Homo sapiens: one gene and its partners. The protein of the gene in region 1 interacts with the protein of each later gene in a pairwise test. Each region holds a gene or a part of one and is shown in the gene's direction. Other genes may lie near its edges.

Region 1 (7,769 bases):
GGCCTCTCCTCTGCCCCTCTACTTTCCCACCTCAGTCCTTTGTGCCTCCTTGGTCTTTTCCCCAGGCTCAGTCCTGGCCTGCTGTGCACCCCCCCATGCTCTGGAGGTGGACTGGGACCCTCATCCTCAGCTCTGCTCTCTGCCTACCCTGGCCCGTCCCCACTGCAGGTGGCCCTCAGGACGGAGACAGCAGGGCCCTGGTGTCCTCCAGCTGCCTGGACCCATATCCGCCAACTGCCCCTGCAACTCGCCACCAGGTCTGTGCCACCACTGCAGGAGCGACACTGGGGGCGGACGCTGGCCAGGCCTCAGAGAACAGAGGAGGTGGGCAGGGCGAAGAAGCCCCCAGAACCTCTCCTGAGGAGCTGAGGGCGGGGCCCCGGCCACTTCTCAGGCTCCAGACTGGCACTGACGAGAGGCTCCGGCAGGAACGGCTGGGAGAAACCTCGCCAGACCAGGTGGCACGAGGCCAGGGATGAGGCTCCTGGAGCCCCGGAGCTCCCGGCCACCCCTCGAGGCCTTGGCATTGCCACCCACTTTACGGATGGAAAGCTGAGGCTCAGGTGAGCAACTGTCCAATGTTTCCTGACTAGAAAGGAATGGAACAGGAACCATTCCAGCCCTCAGACCCCTCGCCAGTGTCTGCTCTGGACCAGGCCCTGCTTACACTCAGGTGTTCACCTATGGGCACCACCTGTAGGGTGGTGCAGGGACTCAGCCAGGCCAGGCAGCTGGGACAGCCTTGCCCTGTGCCTGCGAGGAAGAGGCAACAGGAAAAGAGGATACCTGGGGTGGGAGTCCAGCCTGGGAGCCCAGCGAGGTCAGAGGTCAGCAGCTCCTGCAGCCTGTGGAGCCCTGGGCTGGACAGCAAGGGACACCCGGTGGGAGCAGGTGGCTGAGAGGCTGGCCTCCAGGTCTGGCCATGCAGCCTGGGCAAGCAATGGGCACCCTGAGGGCATAGGGCAGCCTGGTTCTTCTCTTCCAGCCCCACCGGGCAGTAGATGGTGACAGATGAGGCCACAAGGCTGGGGAGTGGTCACATGTGGGGGGCGGGTGCCCGAACCAACCCCTGGGACTGCCTCATTCCTTCTCTGCTGCCGGCTCCTCACTCCACGCAGCCCACACAGAAGGGCAGCAGGAGCCCCGGAATGTGTGCAAAGGGTGGGGTGGGCAGGTGTGTGTGGCCAGCAGTGGGCAGGTGAGGAAGGGCCTTTATGAAGACAGTGATGTGGGGGGCCAAGGCAGAGTTGGGGGCCCTCTGGGTTGTTTCCAAAGAGGACAGAGCCTGGAGGCAGGGGAGATGGGGGAGGTGTGTGCCTCTGCGTGTGCCCATGTGTTTGCGCATGTGTGTGAGTGGGGGTGGGTGTGAGCTCTGGCCTGAAGGGGCCTGTGGTTGCCTCTCCCTGCTGAGCAGCGCTAACTGCCGGCACCCGAGATCAGCAGGGCCAGCCTGGGGGAGCAGCAGGATGCCCCAGGTCAGCAGCTGCCCTGTGAACGCTCCTGGCAACCCAGAAAGGCCCTGCCGGAGTGGGTCAGCCAGGGCTGAGACAGTCTGGGGCTGCGGGGAGAGAGCTGACTCCCTTTGCTCTGATCAGGCAGGAGCAGAGGCGGCTGGGCACCCCAGAAGGAGAAGGGAGGCCCAAGGCACAGGGTGGCCCCTGCCTTTCAGAGCAGGTACCCGCACGCCTCTGGGAACCTAGGTGGTGGGGGCTCAGGAACCAGCACTAAGAGGTCCTTCGAGGCTGTCGTGAGCCTGGTGGAGATCTCAACCGTGAACAGAACCTGGGGGTCATGGGCTACCCCACCCTCCCCTGCAGGACCCCTCCTCTCAGGCAGGTGGGGCCTCAGAGTGGTCAGACCTGCGCAGCAGCAGACCAGGTTGGCTTTGAGAGTGGGGATCCCCCAGGTGCTCCCAATCTCCTTGTGCAGGTCTAGCCCCCACCCCCTTCCCCTGTTCCTTCCCCCACCTGCATCCCCAAGCCATGCTGCTCCAGTGGCTGTCAGGGACGGGCACGGGGTGGGGGTGGGCTGGAGAGAGGAGCAGGGCAGGCCCCTGTCAGGAGAGGCCCCCGCCCCAGGTGGATGGGAGTCAGCCTGGCCTCCTTTCCCGAGGCTGCAGTGCGGGGGTTTGGTGAGGGCTTCTGGGGCGATAATTGGGCAGCGATTAAGCGTTCCTGGCAGCTGCGGCTGTTGCCTGTCACCGGTCAGCTCAGGCCTGCATTCACAGCCTCTGCAGACCCTGCTGGAGGGGGTTGGGGAGGGGAAGACGGGGCTCCGCGTGGCACCCCCGACGCTGCCTGCCCTCGTGCCATCCAGGGCAGGCACTGTGCTCTCCCACCGGTCTCGGCTTGGCCACTTCTGGCTTGCTGTTTAGCAGGTGACAGGGGTGGTGATGGGCCACGGGGCATTGAGCAGAGGACGCCAGGATTCCTCACCAAGGGCCTGGCTCCTGCCCAGCCCTGCCTTGCTCACCGGGCCACCTTGGGCACTCACCCTTCTCCAGGCCTGGCTCCCTCCACACAGGTGAGGGAACTGAGGCAGCGGCACCACCTATGACCTTGGCTCACGTGTCCCCAGTCCTGCCTCCTTGTCAGCTTGCTGATGCCTTGGGTGGGGGTGGCAGCTGGAGGCCACTGCTGGCCAGAGGCCTAAGAGCTGTGCCCTGGCGGGGACGTCAGAGGCCACACGGGCTTGTAAACCCTGGCGGGGCTGGCCCCTGGTCATTGAAGTGCTGGCTCTCACAATGGACACACATGCACGGTCAGTGCCCAGCACCCAGACAACACCTACAGGCTCAGGCTGGCCCCAACCCGGACATGTGGCCCTCGGTGACCGCTGGCTGCACTCACCCAAGGCTGCTGGCGTCTGCCCGTCCCGCATGTGCCCACCCAGCTCCTCTCCCTGGGATTCCGCAGTGGAGAAGCGGGAAGGTCCCTGTGCTGGAGACTTCTCTGCCTGGCTCCCCCTCCCAGCTCCGCGGTGCCCCTCCGCCCTCCCTTCTCTGTCCGCCCACTTACCTTTAATTAGAAATGCCAGGAGAGCCATTTTTGGGGAGTTTTTTTGCCAGAAAGACATTCCCCCCCAGGGGCGGAAGGAAGGAGGAGACAGACTGGCTCTGAGGCTGGGAGAGGGCTCCCCGGGAGAGCCGGTTGGGGGGGGGCTCAGAGGGTTGGCAGGGAGGGGGGATTCCAGCAAGTGGGCACCTGTGTGCCCTTGAGTGCCTGAATAAGACAGGGGATGCTGGGGGGAGCTGAGGGCTGTGAGTGGGGGGTATGAGTGTGTATGTGGGAGCTATGAGTGGGGGGTATGAGTGTGTATGTGGGAGCTATGAGTGGGGGGTATGAGTGTGTGTGGGGGCTGTGAGTGAGGGCATGAGTGTGTGGGGTGGGGTTAGAGTGGGGGCTATGAGTGTGTATGTGGGGGTGTGAGTGTGCAGCATGTGTGTGTCTGAGAGAGGGAAAGGGCAGCTGGCAGCAGGAACAAGATGTCTTGATTGTCAGCGATGATGTCCTCATGGCCCTCTGGCTGTGGGGAATGGTGTGTGTCACCCCTGCCTGGGTAACATCAGAGGACCTGAGACCCATGCCTATCCAGCCAGCACTGGAGTAACTCAGGAAGGGCGTCCCTACCCCCGCCAGGTTGCCAGGGAGGCAGAAGGGACCTCCCTCCCGAGGGAGTCTCGGCTTCCGGAGCCCCGCTCCTTATATGGTGCTTGGCTTCCCTCTGCCTCTCCTGATGGCACTGTGCTGCCAGCACCGGCCCCCCTCCCTCTCCCTCCTCGCCTCTCCTCCCTCCCCTTCTCCTTTCCCTCCTTCCACCTCCCTCCCTGTCTCCCTCTCTCCTCCCCTCTTCCATCCCCTTAGAAGTCTTGGAGCCTCTGGCCAGGTTCTTGATATAGCCAGGGTCTTCAGGGCCCAATTCCCTTCACTGGGGGCTAAATGTCCCCTCCATGTCCTCCAAACCCCAGCCCCCCAGGTAGCAGCTGCCAGATTTCCCTGGAAACACAGAAAAGTATTGGGCCTCACCAGAGACCTGCGTATGGGGGCATGGGGCAGCCCTGTCCAGTCACTGCCACGTGGGCCCCTGTCACCCATGCACACCAACGCCAGGGCCAGGCAGAGCGAGCCTCTGCCTGGCTGTGCGTCCCTCACACAGAGCCCAAGACCTGGACTCAGGACCCGGGCAGGAGTGAGTGGGAGCTCAAAGCCACATCTGGGAGCTCACATGGAGACTTGCTGAGCCCCTGGGCACAGAGGCTGATGGTGAGGGTCCTTCCCGGGCTCAGCTGCACATCCTGCAGAGCTGGGTGGGCGGGGTCAGGGGCAGTGAGGACCCAGGAGAGCAGTGGCCAGCGCCAGCCCCCTCCAGCCCCGCAAAGAGAGAGGCGAGTGGAGAGGAGGAAGGCCACCTTGGGACCCTGGGAGGCAGCAGATGACAGCCCGCCCAGCGCCCGGGAGGGGGCGTGGGAGGGGCGCCCAGTGCCCGGCTCAGTCCCTCGGTCCCCGCAGGCTGAATGAGCCCCGCCGTCCGGGGTGGGAGGTACGGAGCGGAGGGATTAGTCATCCTGGCCCCGCCATGTGTGCAGGGGGTGGGACCTCCCGTCCCTTGCCGCCCGGGAGCCGAGTGGGCGCAGGGCGGGGCCTGCAGGGGCGCGGGCGGGGCGCTGGCGGGGAGCCTGCGGCTGGGCCAATGAGAAACCGGGCTCGGCGAGCCGGCCGCCCACGGGCCTCGCTGGCTGCATAAAGAGCCGGCGGCCAGGACTCAGCGCAGAGCTCGGGCGCGGCGTCCTCCCTCCGCAGCAGCCGAGCCGGACCTGCCTCCCCGGGCGTGCTCCGCCGGCCCCGCCGCCGGCCCGCAGCGACAGACAGGCGCTCCCCGCAGCTCCGCACGGGACCCAGGCCGCCGGACCCCAGCGCCGGACCACCCTCTGTCCGCCCCGAGGAGTTTGCCGCCTGCCGGAGCACCTGCGCACAGATGGAGCTGGACCACCGGACCAGCGGCGGGCTCCACGCCTACCCCGGGCCGCGGGGCGGGCAGGTGGCCAAGCCCAACGTGATCCTGCAGATCGGGAAGTGCCGGGCCGAGATGCTGGAGCACGTGCGGCGGACGCACCGGCACCTGCTGGCCGAGGTGTCCAAGCAGGTGGAGCGCGAGCTGAAGGGGCTGCACCGGTCGGTCGGGAAGCTGGAGAGCAACCTGGACGGCTACGTGCCCACGAGCGACTCGCAGCGCTGGAAGAAGTCCATCAAGGCCTGCCTGTGCCGCTGCCAGGAGACCATCGCCAACCTGGAGCGCTGGGTCAAGCGCGAGATGCACGTGTGGCGCGAGGTGTTCTACCGCCTGGAGCGCTGGGCCGACCGCCTGGAGTCCACGGGCGGCAAGTACCCGGTGGGCAGCGAGTCAGCCCGCCACACCGTTTCCGTGGGCGTGGGGGGTCCCGAGAGCTACTGCCACGAGGCAGACGGCTACGACTACACCGTCAGCCCCTACGCCATCACCCCGCCCCCAGCCGCTGGCGAGCTGCCCGGGCAGGAGCCCGCCGAGGCCCAGCAGTACCAGCCGTGGGTCCCCGGCGAGGACGGGCAGCCCAGCCCCGGCGTGGACACGCAGATCTTCGAGGACCCTCGAGAGTTCCTGAGCCACCTAGAGGAGTACTTGCGGCAGGTGGGCGGCTCTGAGGAGTACTGGCTGTCCCAGATCCAGAATCACATGAACGGGCCGGCCAAGAAGTGGTGGGAGTTCAAGCAGGGCTCCGTGAAGAACTGGGTGGAGTTCAAGAAGGAGTTCCTGCAGTACAGCGAGGGCACGCTGTCCCGAGAGGCCATCCAGCGCGAGCTGGACCTGCCGCAGAAGCAGGGCGAGCCGCTGGACCAGTTCCTGTGGCGCAAGCGGGACCTGTACCAGACGCTCTACGTGGACGCGGACGAGGAGGAGATCATCCAGTACGTGGTGGGCACCCTGCAGCCCAAGCTCAAGCGTTTCCTGCGCCACCCCCTGCCCAAGACCCTGGAGCAGCTCATCCAGAGGGGCATGGAGGTGCAGGATGACCTGGAGCAGGCGGCCGAGCCGGCCGGCCCCCACCTCCCGGTGGAGGATGAGGCGGAGACCCTCACGCCCGCCCCCAACAGCGAGTCCGTGGCCAGTGACCGGACCCAGCCCGAGTAGAGGGCATCCCGGAGCCCCCAGCCTGCCCACTACATCCAGCCTGTGGCTTTGCCCACCAGGACTTTTGAGCTGGGGCTGACTCCTGCAGGGGAAGCCCTGGTCCAGCTGGGTGCCCCCTCGAGCTCCGGGCGGACTCGCACACACTCGTGTCATCCAGATGTGAGCACCGCACCCAGCGGCAAAGAGCCCTCCCCCCTGCAGGGCTCCACCCATCACCCTCCCTCCGTCTGTCTTTCCGGCCTGGACCCCACCCTCCACACTCTCAGGCCATCACAGAACACCCCAGCTTCCTCATTCTGCTACAACACCCAGGCCCTCTGGACATCCAGAAAACCAAGTGTCCGGATGGCAGGGGCCAGCGGCCACCAAGCTCATGGGACACCCAGAGCAGAAGCTAGGGCAGAGCCAATGCTGAGGGAGCCTCGACTTCCGGCGCCGCCGCCCTCTCCCGGCATCCGCAGAGCCAGCTGACGCCCTCCCTGCCTCCCAGGGCAGCTGGCCAGCCTCGGGCAGCGCGGCCCCCTCCTCCCAGGGGAGAGTAGAAGTCGCACACGCAGCAGAGCAGACCTGATGTCCCGGTGCTTCCTGGCCCCTCAGGTGAGCCCCTGCCCCAAGGCAGTACCGGCTGTGGGGCATCTGAGAGCTGGCGGGATCCGGAGGCTGTTTTCTAGGAGAGCCCACTGAGGCTTGGGCCCCCAGCAAGTTAGCCAAAGGGATGGGGTGGGGCTGGCATCATGGAAGGGGGCATTGGGGAGAGTGGGCCGGGTGGGAGGCAGGGGCAGTTTGCTGAGCCAGCTCTCACATGGACCCGCGCTTTCTCTCCCCCAGCTCCAGTGATTCACGCCCGCCTGGAGAAGAATCAGAGCTCAGCTCATGACTCACCCATGGCAGGCGGAGGGTCCCAGAGGGGCTGAGTCCTCAAATCCGGCTGAGGCAGCAGCTGGCACCATCAGAGCCAGGAGAGTGACAACAGGTAACGGAGCACCACCCTTCCACCCAGACCCCACCATCAGCTGTCCCGGCCAAATGAGCTCCTCCCCAGACCCCAGACACCCTGCGGCCCAGGCCACTCCCCAGTGTTCGGGCTCGCTGGGAGGCTCTGACGGGGTCGGGGGGCCTCTGCCTTGGAAGACCAGCGCCATCCACCGGCCCCAGCCCCTCCCCATGGAGCCCTGGCTACTGTCCTGCGTGGTCCTTCACTGCCCACTCTCCTGTTCTTTCAGGTCTCAAGGTTCCCACAAAGTCTTTGCTGCTGTGCTGGGCACCACCCACCCCTCACCTTGCAGGCTGCCTGCGTGGGAGGCGAAGTCCCAGGACAGCCCAGAGGGGGGCTACAGAGAGGAGTCGGCTGCAGCAGAGGGCAGGAGCCCCAGCTTAGCCCTGAGCGCCAGCGCGAGGACCAGGGCCTGCCACTAAGCCCGCCCCGCTGGCCGCCAGCTGCCCGTCCCCAGAGCCACTGCAGCAGGAGTCGGGCCCTGCCTCCCTCCCAGCAGGGAAACCCCGCCCGCTGCCAGGCCATCCTCTCTGCCAGAGGCTTTCATGAGCCCCAAGGCTGGGGCCACAGCTCCTACCCCTGCCCAGCAGCCCTGAGCTCAGCTGCAGGA
Region 2 (7,022 bases), about 120 Mb from region 1:
TTCATACATGGCACCACATCCTGCTGTTCTGATTCTGGGCACACAAATAAACTCACAAAAAGGCCTCTGTGTTGTGTATTACAGTGAAGCTGAGTTAGAGCTGGACTGCCCGGCTCTGCCGCTTACCAGCTGCTGACCTGTGCTCTATCTTCCTAATCTGTGAGATGGGCATAGTGATGGGCTGGACTCCAAGGGTTATTGTGAAGATTAAGTGAGTTAACACATGTAGAGTGCTTAATTAAGATGGTGCCTGGTACAAGAAGTGTTAGCTGTGTTATCAGGAATATGCAGGGCGGGGGAGACTGGAGGAATATGACTTTGACACTTTAAGGGTTTTAGATTCTAGGATCTACCCATGCCTTGAATAGGATTCGCTGCATTCAAAATGGGGAACACAGCAGAAGTCTCAACCCCAGCTGAACTGTTCATCTTCTGCCGTGTGTGATTTCTGCGAAAACCAACCATTGAACTTAAGGACATTTACTGGAATGTCAAGGAGTCATTCTGTCTCCTTTCTTACCACTTTATCTTGGAGCTTGTGGATTTCATTGGCTCCACCCTTTGAGAAGCTGCTAGAAACAAAAAGTCAAAAGTCAAGAAATCTTGACAAGACATCCATTTTTTTTTTTTTTTTTTTTTTTGGCTGTTCAAGCCTTTAAGGGTATCTCAATGCAAAATACAAAGTTGGCAAGTGGATCTGGGAAGGGCGTGATATTACTTTTAGTCCTTTAAAATTTTTCTCTTAATGTTTGGTTCCATTTGGATTCTGGTAGTTGAATGCTGCCGAGATGATAGGTTGCAGTCAGTAGGGATAGGTGTAGTTTCATCAAGGGCCTGGCTTCACAATGAACAGTCAGCGAATCTAAGAGCTGAGTATGCACACCACTCTGTGGTAGCCTAGCTGTTGAGCGTGCTTGTCTCAAAAGACAGGTGTAAATCAAGGAACTACTTTGCACGGAAGAGGAGGAAGACGGGAAGCTGAAGGAGGCCCCCAGATGGTGAGAGGGGCATTACAAATCTAACTGTATCAATGACAAGGTGAACGAAGAGAAACCAACAACACTACGATGGTCATAATATAGCTAAGTGACTTGTCTGAAGTTTAAGACTGTTTGAACATAGTATGGAGAAACAACGTATTTGAGAGCACATGGCAAGGTGGTAAGATTATTGAGGTGTTATTATAAATAACAAATTATTGGTCAATTTCTTTTTTTTTTCTTTTTTTATTTTTGAGACAGAGTCTCCCTCTGTTGCCCAGGCTGGAGTGTAGTGGCGCGATCTCGGCTCACTGCAACCTCTGCGTCCTAGGTTCAAGCGATCTCCTGTCTCAGCCTCTTGAGTAGCTGGGATTACAGGCACCCACCACCATGCCCAGCTAATTTCTGTATTTTTTGTTTTTTTAGTAGAGATGTTGGTCATACTGGTCAGACTGGTCTCGAACTCCTGACCTCGTGATCCCCCCTCTTTGGCCTCCCAAAGTGCTGGGATTACAGGCGTGAGCCACCCCGCCTGGCCTATTGGTCAATTTCTTAGGACACATGTGATTCTGAAAAGTTGTAGTAAGTTTTTTTTCTTATATCTTATTACATCGAATCCAAAGTCTTTTGTTTTCCAGAATAGATATATTTACATAGTTTCCTGCTGATTACAAAAGTATGATGGTTTATGGGACTTAGAAATTGTTTAAAAATAGAGAGAGAAAGTATGACAGTGTGGTAATATTTTTAAGCCAATATTTTAAAATAGAAATGTGGAAAGTAGAATGAAACCTCAGTAGGATTTCCAACCACAGGAGAACTTCTAGGAGGCCACTGTGCACTCTCGCTTTATGGTTTCTCTTTCAAGGAGCCATGCGGTAAAGTCATATAAATGAAGGATCCTTTGTTATGAACCTAATGACCTCTTCATCCCCCTAGTTTATCTGGTCTGTCCATTTAGATTTTATTAAACTAGGTTATCTGGAAAAAGCACACCTAAAACTCGGTGACCTTCCAGAATGTAGATGGATGTTCTCTCTTGCACCTGCCCTGATTTTCATGGCTCTAGTAGGTTATCTGGAAATTACATTATCCTTTTGTGAAGAGGAAAGTACATAATTTTGTTTATTTAATGCTACTTTTTAGGGAAATTGCAGAAAATGCATGGTGGTCTAGTTTTTATTTCTTCCTTTTTCTTCCTTGAGCATGGCTCTATTTTGGTTTGGTTTGGGATGAGTTACTCTGTGACATATCAAAAGTGGTATTTTCTTTTGAAATAGGTACTTTGCAGAGAGCCTTTTAATTTCTTCCTGTGACTTTTTTTTTTCTTTCTTTTTTCAGCCACACAGTTGGTGGTTTGTTAGGCTCTGGGGTAATAATGTGTTTGCTTAGTTGGGAGCTGGACAAACCTCTGTGAACTTTTTTTGTTTGCCTGAGATTGACCTGTATAAAGTTAGGGTTTGTTTTCTTTTTTTTTTTGACAGAGTATCTTTAGAAATTACAGGATAGAGGTTATACAAACTCTTAACAAAGTGTGCCTCAGATTTTCTTCTTCTCTTTTCTCTCTGAACTGAAAAGTGATACTGTGTTTCCTCCTAGCTTTTTTTTTTAAACCCGTCCTAGCCAGTGTCCACACATTTTAACACGCTGCCTGAATGTGGGCTCTTTCTCTCTGCAGGTTCAGTGAACAGCATTTTGGACAGGACATTTGGTGCCAGGTCTGAGTAGCCAGTTTGCTGAATTATTGTCCCAGTCAGCCAGGATTGTGAGCTGTTTGGGAAGTTTCGTGGAAACGCCCAAGTGCCAGCACAGGTGGAGGGACACCTGGAGGCCAGTTTCAGGAACTTTTGCCACAAGTATAAAAGACTTCAGAAGTGCAAAGATGCTGAAACAGATACTGTCGGAGATGTACATAGATCCTGATCTACTGGCAGAGCTCAGCGAAGAACAGAAACAGATCCTGTTCTTCAAGATGAGAGAGGAACAGATCCGACGATGGAAAGAAAGAGAAGCAGCTATGGAAAGAAAGGAGTCCCTGCCAGTGAAACCCAGACCAAAGAAAGGTAAACTTATCCACGTTTCTTCTGTGGATGTGTTGGTAGAACAGCTCCTGGCTTGCTTTGACAATTTCACACTAGTCACAAGCAAAGCAGGTGCAAGTTCCAGTTTGGCAGATGAATCCTAAATGTTATTGAGAATCTAATAGTGCAGTATGTCCACCTGAAGTCTACACACACACACACAGCATTCACCATGGAGTTGCATAGCTATGAGGAAATCTTTTACTTGAAACCAGACTAACCTGAAGCTGTATTAAAAAGTCACCTATGAGGTTTGATTTGAGGGGTATTAAGAAAGGTTTCTATCTCCTTTATTGTTACTGGTTCCTAATATGCTACTACTAGAACACAAAGTTCTTGTGTCAGTATATTTATAGCAATTGTGTTTGCATTTCTTAGACCTCAGAGATTTTTCTTTGAGGTATCTTTTTAGGGAACACCTCCTGTTAAAATGTAAGGAATTGCTATAAGGAAAAAAATCATAATACTATCTTTTTTTAGTGTGAATGAGTTTCTCAGATGTAAACTTTTCCTCGTTATCAAAGGAATCTCTGGTAGTTTGAGAGGGTTCTTTTGAGACCATGGGGGAGGAAATCTTTGTACATTAAGACTTAAAGCAGACAAGGTGCAGTGGCTCATGCCTGTCATTGCAGCACTTTGGGTGGCCGAGGTAGGAGGATCACTTGAGTCCAGGAGTTCTGACCAGCCTGGAAATATAGTGAGACCTTTTCTTTAGGAAAAATAAAAAATTAGCTGGGCATGGTGGTACATGCCTATAGTCCCAACTACTTGGGAGGCTGAGGTGGTGTAATTGCTTGAGCTCAGGAGATCGAGGCCACACTGAACTGAAATCACACCTCTGCACTCCACCCTGGGTGACAGAGTGAGACTGTGTGTCAAAAAAAAAAAAAAAAAAAAAAAGACTTAAAGCATATACACATACAGACACAGAAAAATACACATTGTCCACCCTCCTCACTCCGTTCTCACTAACCCCCACACCCCCGCCTTGCTGTTTACATGCGAAGTCTGTCATGGGTGAATACCAAAGTTGTGAAAACACAGCACACTTTTCAAGGTCACTTGCAGAGGCATCTAAGACCGTCTCTTTTCATGTTTCATTAAACCAGGAAAATAAAATTTTGTAAAATCACATATGGTTTCAAAGATTGAGAAAATGAATCTCTCTTGCATCCCTGGTATATGCCCAGGTTCACAAAGGAGGTCAGTGTAGCGTCCTTTACTTTTTACTGTCTTTTATTAAAACTTTTTTCCAGTGATGCCTTTATCATGACAAGGAAATAAACAGAAATATGTCATTTCCTCTTGTTATGATCAATACAACTATTTATGAAACACCTCCTGTTTCAGACACTATGTGAAGCACATTTATGCATATAATGCCTAACCTTCACAAAACTTCTGCAAAGTCAGCAGTGACAGTCCTGTTTTACAGATGATGAGACTTAGAGAAGTTCATTTTTTTTTTTGCTTGTTTGTTTGTTTGAGATGGAGTCTCACTCTGTCGCCCTGGTTGGAGTGCAGTGGTACAATCTTGGCTCAATGCAACCTTCGTCTCCCGGGTTCAAGCAATTCTCCTGCCTCAGCCTCCCAAGTAGCTGGGATTACAGGCATGTGCCACCACACCCAGCTAATTTTTGAATTTTTAGTAGAGGTGGGGTTTCTCCATGTTGGCCAGGCTGGTCTTGAACCCCAGACCTCAAACGATCTGCCCACCTGGGCCTCCCAAAGTGCTGGGATTACAGGCCTGAGCCACTGAAGCTGGCCATGAAACTTAGATAAGTTGAGTAATATATGCAAGGTTATACCACCAATAGATGCCCAGTTCTGTTGGATTTTACATTATTCTGCACTATCCAAAATACAACTTTTCCTCCAACAAATAACATGGCCAAACTGAAACATAACTCTTTTTCTTTCTAAACTGGTTTATGCACCTTCTTGGATTCCCCAGTCAGAGTTTTTCAGATATAATTGGGTCTCTTCTGGGCACCATGTTCACTGTGAACATAACATATATTAGTGTGATGGGGTGACCTTGGGGACTAGCAGCCAAAGGGTTCTTGCCACTAGAGTCAATGGCCCAGACTCTGTTAGACTTTGGGTTTCTCGTGTTTGCTGAATTGGTCTCCTTGTGATGACTTAAAATAATAATTTCAGTTTCTTTGCTTACATTTCTCGCTTGTAGGGTTTTGAATCTACCTCTCAGAAACCCTGTGTTAACTTTGTTAGTCAAATGATCATGAGAAAAGTATGTTAATATAAGTGGGGAAAGTTCTATCAATATCTCACGTCAAAAGTGTATTACTCCCTTAAATTGAAAACTTGGAAAAATATATTTTGCATTAAATTAGTTCCTCTTCTGACTACAGAAAGGGAAAAAGTTACTCCCACTTCCCCTAAAATCCCATCACTTCTCTTTCATCTTGCGCTGTCTTTGAAGATAAAGCCATAGACCGTCCAAAGCAATGCTGTCATGGCTGGTGCTGCCAGAGGTGCTTATCTGTGCTGCAGACCTGCTAAGCCCATGACCCTTGTGGGTTGACAGGTCACTCGTGCATCTGATCCCTGAAGGCTTGTGCTCCCTGCCTCCCCTTCTCCCGCCTTTCTGGTTAGTACTGAGCTAAGTGCTGCTTTTTCTTAGCAGTTCTTAGCCACACGGTGGTTTTGAAGGTTGTTCATTTCATTAAAAACATCATAGGCCACCCCTGCCATTCCTTGACCCCCTCTAGCTTATCACTTAGAAGTTCCTTCATTGTCATCTGGTCATTTTTCACTACGAATACACAGACCCCTGTGCTTAGTGTTTGGGGATCATCACTAAAATTGTTGTGTATTGTGCATCACAGAAACTTGTCTATTATTCTTTTTTTTTTTTTTTTTTTTTAAAGACAGAGTCTTGCTCTGTCTCCCAAGCTGCAGTGCAGTGGTGTGAGATTTCAACTCACTGCAACCTCTGTCTCCCTAGCTGCAGTGCAGTGGTGTGACATTTCAACTCACTGCAACCTCTGCCTCCCAGGTTCAAGCGATTCTCCTGCCTCAGCCTCCTGAGTGACTAGCTGGGATTATAAGCACCTGCTACCATGCCCAGCTAATTTTTGTATTTTCAGTAGAGACAGGGTTTCACCATGTTGGCCAGCCTGGTCTTGAACTCCTGACCTCAAGTGATCCACCCACCTCCGCCTCCCAAAGTGCTGGGATTACACGCATGACCCACCGTGCCCGACTTGTCTACTTGTTAGTAATCTGAAGGCTGAAGTAGAAGGGGCTGAAAAACTATCAGCATGTGAATTTAACTTAGTACTATATGAGAAGATCATTTCTGATTTCTGTAGTGGGAGAATGTGATACTTAGGGAGAGACGTATGGATCTACTCTGCTTGCTGGGGTAGCTAGAGGTCTACAGCCGCACCGTCCAGTGCAGTCACCACAAGCCACATGTGGCTCTTGAGCACAGGAAATGAGGCTAGTCTGGATTGAGGTGTGCTATACATGTAAACTACCGGATTTCAAAGACTTGGTAGAAGGAAAAGATAATGCCACATTAATAATTGTATATTCCTTATATATGGAACTGATGATATTTTGTATATCTTGGGTAAAGTAAAATACTTAATTTCACCTGTTCCTTTTGATTTTTTTTTTTTTTTGAGACAGAGTCTCTTGCTCTGTCTCCCAGGTTGGAGTACAGAGGCATGATCTCAGCTCACTGCAACCTCTGCCTCCTAAATTCTAGCGATTCTCCTTTCTCAGCCTCCCAAGTAGTTGGAGTTACAGGTGTGCGCCAGCACACCCAGCTAATTTTTGTATTATTAGTAGAGATGGGGTTTCACCATGTTGGCTAGGCTGGTCTCAAATTCCTGACCTTAGGTGATCCACCTGCCTCGGCCTTCCGAAGGGCTGGGATTACAGGTGTGAGCCAGGGCACCCGGCCTCCTTTTGATTTTTTTAATGTGGCTAC
Region 3 (7,306 bases), on another chromosome or scaffold:
AGGAATTGCAGCTCCGGATCGCTTTGTTCACGGGGCCTGGGTTTGCATCTGCAGCACCAGACCCGGCAGAGAAATCCGCAAGAGTGCAGTCCTTGAGCCCTGGGACGCCTGAATTTACTACCGTAGGCTTTATAAACTTGTACAAGATAAAATATTTTCATTAACGCAGATCCGAAGGAGAGGCGAGAAGAAAAGTATGTGCAAAGAGAAGAAAGAGAGTGGGAAAGAGTAGGGACAGGAATCGCGGAAAGGGGAAGCCCTAGCCCATTTGTGCGGCGCTGCCTGGTGACTCAGCGTAGGCTGATGTTCACGGTCTCCAATTAGGCTATGGCTCCTTCCCAGATTAAACTATAGAGGAACGCAGCCAAATAAGTACCCCTCTTGGTGTTTGGATTTGGCCGTTGCCCACCCATACTCTCCGTCCCATTTCTGCTTCTAGCTCACTTCATCTTTTACTAATAATAAACTTCTCTATGTGTGGCAAAGAAGTCTGGGTCCGGATTATTTGGAGACTCGGGGACCATTTGATGTGCCCTGAGATCAGGGGCAAAGAACAGATTCTTGTCTGAACAGACTCAGGGCTTACCTTATCGAGTCTGAGAAATTAAATATAGGGGTTAAATACAGCGAGTGTCAAGTGTAAAAGAAAAAAAATCAATCTTTCGAAGGAATGAAGACCGGACGCATAGAGCTTTAACAATTATAACTTAAAAAAGAAACAATTGTTTATAAATAAAATGTAAGTATCTTATAAATCAGGTAAGATGAAATAGCAAACTATACACAACTGGCCATGTATCAATGCTATGTAAACAGGCTCCAGGCTAAAAAGCAGAGTGGAAGCCGACAGAGAATGAGTTTAAAACAACAACAACAAAAAAGCACTATTTCGGAACTGTCCAATTTTAAACTGCACCAAGAAAAATAAAGAAGAGACCGGATATGCTTTTTAAAAGTCCATCTCCCGCCCCTGCACGCCCCCTCCCACCAGTTAGTGTTGCTGTCCGGCAGGACATGGATTCCACTGTATATCGTTGTCCCAGATCTGGGAGCTCAAGGATCTTTTGCCCTTCTCTCTCTCCCCAAGTCCTTGAGACTAATTCATTCTGACAATATTCTCCTCTGGCTGACTTTTATTTAACATAGAATCCGGCTGGTCTTGAGAGAGGCCTGACAGTTTATTTCAGTTTTGTTTCCTCAATGTAGCTCAATACTGGGAAAAGACATTTTAATCTCCTAAAGCAACAGAAGACACACATTCTCAGGTACTTAGACCCCAACTGCCAACAGACACATTTACACTTGAGCAGGTGCACATGCTCACGCACACATGCAAACACAGACACGTGCACACGCGCGACCGGACATTGCGATTACGCGCCCTGTCCCCGCTTTCTTTGCTCTCTTGACTTGCAAAGTGCGAGGGCCTGGCGCTCTCCTCGAAAGGGCATGCCGCGCTGTTGGTAAAAGGCCTTGCTAGGACGAGGCTTTGCTGTCACTCGTCACTCTCAAGGCTGCCACTCCGCCCAGCCAACTCGGAATGTCTTTCCCTCCCATGCCCAAGAGAGATTCGACGCCCCTTCTCCAGGAGCCGAGGTTGGAGTGGGCTGCAGTCTGTGACACACTGCCCCTCGGGACCTGGGTTAGCTGGTCCTGCCCAATCCAGTAGCCTGAGCCGAACTTAACGCAAGTTGGAGGCGGCGGCAGCAGTGGTGCGGCTCTACTGCTATGATTCTCCTTAGCCAGTAGCAGGACTAGGGGGCAAACGCCTTGTCCTGTCCTCGGCGCCCTACTCACACTTGAATTATTTCTAAGGGCCACGTTCTAGAAACATCGTGGATGTAGACGAGGCTCTGCTTTCCAGCCTTTCGGCAATGCGGACACCAGTCCCCGGGTTTCCCCGCCTGCTGGGGTCTGCTGCCCAGGGTGAAGGCGAAAGACATAAAGAAATGGCAGAGGAAAAGAAGAGGGCGTGAGGCTGTATGATCCCGAGAGCGCCTTGCAGGCCTGTGTATCCCTTTCTAAATCAGTTTGAGCTGCAGGACATATACAGGGAGAACTCCTTTGCGGAACAGGCTTTGCGTCAGCAAACAGTGTTTGTCCCTGGCAGTTTCTCCCAGGGTAGGGGCTCCCACTACCCCTGCTGAGCCCCAGCAGGCCCGAGGGCTCCGACGACTACACCCCTGGGCAGCAGCAGAGTCTCCAAAGCTGTAAGGACCGCTCGGAGAAGCACCGGGTAGCTCCCTTCTTGGGGTCCCCGAGAGCCTGGGATTGGGGCGGGGCACCTCAGCTGAACGGAACTTCTTCTGGCGTCTACTCCAGCTAAGTTAGCTCCCGCCTTGTCCCACTCCCACTCCCGGCCCAAACTCTCTAGGCGGCCTCTTAGCTCTCCCTGCCGGCGCCTGCCTTCGGCTAAGCTTCAGAAATGGGATTTGCGCTTCTTTTTAATGATGTAATACCGGCCTAGGGTACCCCGGAGCTTGGAGACCCACTAGGGACCACACAGCTCTAAACCGGTCGCAAAGCCTTCATTTTGTAAAATGCAAAACACCTCCTCCCAACTGAGTTTGTTTCTCAGGCGTCTAAAAGAGGCTTCCTCCGCAAGGATATTACAAAATCATTTTTGACCTCAAGGCTGCCAGGTTTGGCTGGGCGGCTTGCTCGTGCCTCTGCTCATCGCCTGCCAGGTTCCTACTCCCGCTGTGGTGTCCGGCCTCCAGGAACCGCGCGTTCTCTTCTACAATAAAAGGATCAGTCTCAGTGGCGGATCTACCCCCAAATGCTACTCTACTGAAAGTTTACAGAGAAGTCAGAGATAAAAGGGCAGCCAACGGTTGCGGAGATTGAATTAAACGAGGGACGAGGGAGAGGAAAAAATTCCTTTGTCATATATATATATATATATATACACACACACACATATGGAGACAGAGAGAGAGACAGAGACGGAGTCTTGCTGCGTCGCCAGGCTGGAGTACAGTAGCGCGATCTGGGCTCACTGCAACCTCCGCCTCCCGAGTTCAAGCGATTCTCCTGCCTCAGCCTCCCGAGTAGCTGGGACTACAGGCGTGCACCACCACGCCCAGCTACTATTTGTATTTATTTATTTATTTAGTAGAGACGGGGGTTTCACCATGTTGGCCAGGATGGTCTCGATCTCTTGACCTCGTGATCCGCCCGCGTAGGCCTCTCAAAGTGCTGGGAATACAGGCGTGAGCCACCGCGCCCGGCCTGCCGTGTATTTTATACAAAAGATGGAGTAATATGCACGATTAATTTTATTCCACAAGAGATTTGCTCTATTTATACCAAACATATATATATATATTTGTTAATCCTAACAAAAAGTCGAGTTGAAACTACAAAACAAATTGTACAAATATATATGTTTGGTGTCATTTAATTAAAAAGCACTGATTTTATTAAATTTGTTTTAAATACATCAATGGACTCCTTAAAAGCCTGAAGTAACGATTGTAAATTGTCAACAGTAGGACAAATATAAACTTACTTAAATCACAGAGAAGTTTTTCAAATGGGGAATTTTATTGCGTCTTCATACTTATTTCATTTTGCGAAGTTTTAAGGGGTTTTAAAGTTGTCCATATCGTTAAAGACGTACAGAATGAAAATCCCATGACCTACGTTTTAAAATAACTACCACTCTTTGAAAGAAAAGGTGGGCTGCGGAAAGGGCGTGCTTTTTCTGACATTTATATGACGGACTGAGCGTTAACGTAACATTTTGCACTCCTAAAGGATTTACATATTTCTTAACCTGGTATCCCCTAAGAAAAAAATCACGGAGTAAAGTTTAAATAAGCCTAAGCCATATCTGGCGCAGACTGAGTGCAGGAACATTTAAATGAGAAAGGAGGGGCCTGCGAATTCTTCCCAGCTTCCCAATATTCTGAGTTGTAGCAACATTAAGCGATACGGAAGTGGGACGGCAATTTACGGAACCTTGAAAGATTCCTGATTTTCTAACTTGTTGAACGTCTAGTTTAAAGCCGGGAACTTCCGCCTTTCCAGGTCCTGGTGAGGAAAGCTGGAGACTACGGGGCTGGACTCAGCTACGGACGTCAGAGAGACAGAGTTCAGCGTCCGTGTGGCTGGCACATCCAAGCCAGACAGCGGCGCTTTTCACTCCTGGTTTTTCGCTACCTTGTAAGGAAGTGGGCGCGGGCTGCGCGGAGTCGGCGCCTCCTGATTGGCCGGCCGTCTGGGTGATGGACAGGGACCCGGGCTCCGCCCCCGCCGCTTTATTGACACTAATGAGCAAGTTCTTCCCACCGCTCTCCTGCCTGGAAGTGCTGACAGATCAAGGCAACAAATTTCAATTACAATCCCTAATTTGTGTCCACAGAGTGTTTTTTACCCATGTTAGTCCTCTCTGGCGCATCAGTTGAGGCAGACCTCGGAGCAGCAGGAGGAGGTGGAAGGGGTGGGAGCAAAGGAGTGCATCAGTGAGAGAGCGCGCGAGAGAGACCCAGGAAAGGAGACTTGGCCGGCGCGTCGCCGGTTCCTGGATCCCAACACAAGCGAGAAAGCGGAAACGCCAAATCTGTTTTTTGCCCGCGGTGGGGAAGGGGGCAGATCTCGGGAGGCCCCGAGAGCCTTTTAGTTTTTGGTGGGGGAAGAGCGAGAGCGCGCGTGTGCCCGCGTGAGTGTATATGAGAGAGGGGCGGGCGGGCGCGGGGCGGGGGGGATGGCCGAGAAGCGAAGGGGCTCGCCGTGCAGCATGCTAAGCCTCAAGGCGCACGCTTTCTCGGTGGAGGCGCTGATCGGCGCCGAGAAGCAGCAACAGCTTCAGAAGAAGCGGCGAAAACTGGGCGCCGAAGAGGCGGCGGGGGCCGTGGACGACGGAGGCTGCAGCCGCGGCGGCGGCGCGGGCGAAAAGGGTTCTTCTGAGGGAGACGAAGGCGCTGCGCTCCCGCCGCCGGCTGGGGCGACGTCTGGGCCGGCTCGGAGTGGCGCAGACCTGGAGCGCGGAGCCGCGGGTGAGTGGGCCCCTTCCTGCCTATAACTTCTCTCCGGCGCGAACCTGAACTTCTGCGAGTCTGTGGGTGTGCGTGCGCGCCGCGTCCCTACATGGCCAAGGCCACTCAGCCACTAGCGCATTGGCCGTGTCAGTCGCAAAGCTCGCCGCGCAACCTGGTCACCCTCCAGACGGTTCAGATACTGCTTCCAGGCTCGCCTCGCGGGCGGCCGCCGCCCACTCGGCGACCCGCGCCTTCGGCCGCGGCTGTTTGCTGCGCCTAGCGGTGCAGCTCTGTGCTTCCTGCATCTGCCTCCCTTGGGGTTCCAGCCAATGGGTGCTCTTTTTTGTTTCCTAACTTTTAAAAGCACAGGGCGGGGAGGAGGGGAGCGACGGCATACCCCACCCTGAAACCGGAACGAATGCCCTAAACCGTTTGTGCAAACCAGGAAGAGGGCGGCATATTTGGAAACTTGGTTTCCCGAAGGGTAGTTGAGCGGTTCCCTTCCCTTCTCCTCTTGATTTCTCTGCCAAGGCCGACGGCGACCGCGGGCTTGCTTTTCACACTTTTCTCTGCTGGGCTGGAAGCGCAGGGCGCCGGGAGTTTGGCGAAAGCGGGGTCTGAAGAGCCTTCTAGAAGATGCCTCCGGCCCGGCCCAAAAGAAGGCCCAAAGCGAGGCGCCGCAGACGCTTATGGCTTAAGGAGGCCCAGGCTCTTGGGACCAGAGTCCGGGCGCTTTTGCTGCTTGCGCTTCGAGGCGCAGGTTGCGTCGGAGTTTGCACTGGGGACTCTGGACCCGGGAGCTCCTCTGACTCCGTCGGGCAAGCGTCCCAGACCCCGGCGGCGGCGTGAAGCCTTTTCTGCTGGGGCCTTGGCCCTGCGGAGGCCCAGCGGGTGGGGTGGACGCTGCCCGCGCGCCTCTCCCGGGCTTGGGACTTGGGGACCAAGCAGGCCACACTGGAGCTCTGAATGCGCCCCTTCGACAGGCAGAATGTGGGTGTCTATCGACTGGCTTGTTCTTTAGGAGGACCTGATGGCACCAAAGCTTCCCCTTTTCTCCCGGTCATTTTCCTCTTCTCAGCCACCAGGTGGGCCCGTCTCCGCGGCTGGCTTCCCCTCTGTTTCCCTCACCAGTTCCCTTTCTCTGTCCTTTGCTGTCCAGGCGGCTGTGAGGACGGCTTCCAGCAGGGAGCTTCCCCTCTGGCGTCACCGGGAGGCTCCCCCAAGGGGTCTCCGGCGCGCTCCCTGGCCCGGCCCGGGACCCCTCTGCCCTCGCCGCAGGCCCCGCGGGTGGATCTGCAGGGAGCCGAGCTCTGGAAGCGCTTTCATGAGATAGGCACTGAGATGATCATCACCAAGGCCGGCAGGTAATGGGCAAGCTGGCGTGGACGCCCCTCCCTACCCCAGACCCTGTCTTCACTCACCTCTAGCTCAATCAGGAAGAAGGGCCTGCAGCTCGGTGGGGGTTCTGGATAGCATTTTCGGTCAAACGGGACCAGGCCCCAGACCGTGGTTCACTTTGGAGGCTAGCTTTGGCTACCCACCACTAGTGCAGTCGGTGCACAGTCCAACTGCCCTCTGGTTGAATGCCAGGGAGAAAATTACTGTCGCCGCTGATGCCACAGCTGTCGCGGTTGATGTTCTGCGTTCAGGGCGGTTATAAATTTGAGGTCATATTTACCCTTGTCCAGGTATTTATTTAGGCTCTAGTTGTCAGTTCTGGAACTAGGAAACATTCTTTTTTTTTTCCTTTCTCTTTTATTTTTAAACAGCAGTTTACTCCAGTAAACTATGATTTGCTTTTTCAGATTTGAAACTCCCAGGCAGATTGGTTCTTTATCAGAAGATATCCTGGCAATTTGATAAGATGATCTGTCCTGCTATTTCATATTAGACTAGGAGGAAAAGTCACTGGACTCACCCACAATACATGTTTAATCATGTATAGGTGCAAGAATAATTACCCTGATTTTTAAAAAGCATCCTGTTTATAGATTTAGAGTACCTGGTTATTTATTTATTTATTTTTGTCCTAAATGGAATCCAACACAGCCTGAATTTGCTGAGGAATACTTAAAAATTTTTTATAAAAAGGTACATCGGTTTTTTAAAAAGTGTGAAATTTTCCCATCCATTGGTTAGTAAAATAAATGGATTTGTTGGGCAGATCATATTAATTTGAGGTAGGCACATGAATATTTGCATTTTAAAGTTTTCAGTTTATTTAGTGCAGTGAAATCTATGAATAATAAGCTTCCTTAAACGGAACTTTAGAAAGCACACACAACTCTTTCAGGGAGTACACATGGTAAAAACCTGGATAGCAT

The links.
Region 2: the proteins of ARC (region 1) and SH2D4A interact in binary tests that used the Homo sapiens proteins (3 or more experiments, as listed by UniProt).
Region 3: the proteins of ARC (region 1) and TBX18 interact in binary tests that used the Homo sapiens proteins (3 or more experiments, as listed by UniProt).

The regions. Positions count from the first base shown.
Region 1 is NC_000008.11:142,611,477-142,619,245, reverse strand, and holds the start of ARC (activity-regulated cytoskeleton-associated protein), read left to right. Parts: upstream 1-4,766; 5' UTR 4,767-4,974; coding exon 4,975-6,165; 3' UTR 6,166-6,762; intron 6,763-6,993; 3' UTR 6,994-7,138; exon of another isoform or gene 7,139-7,388; 3' UTR 7,389-7,769.
Region 2 is NC_000008.11:19,316,686-19,323,707, forward strand, and holds part of SH2D4A (SH2 domain-containing protein 4A), read left to right. Parts: intron 1-2,658; 5' UTR 2,659-2,862; coding exon 2,863-3,043; intron 3,044-7,022. UniProt on the Homo sapiens protein: Inhibits estrogen-induced cell proliferation by competing with PLCG for binding to ESR1, blocking the effect of estrogen on PLCG and repressing estrogen-induced proliferation. May play a role in T-cell development and function.
Region 3 is NC_000006.12:84,761,584-84,768,889, reverse strand, and holds the start of TBX18 (T-box transcription factor TBX18), read left to right. Parts: upstream 1-4,291; 5' UTR 4,292-4,708; coding exon 4,709-5,000; intron 5,001-6,141; coding exon 6,142-6,346; intron 6,347-6,403; exon of another isoform or gene 6,404-6,549; intron 6,550-7,306. UniProt on the Homo sapiens protein: Acts as a transcriptional repressor involved in developmental processes of a variety of tissues and organs, including the heart and coronary vessels, the ureter and the vertebral column.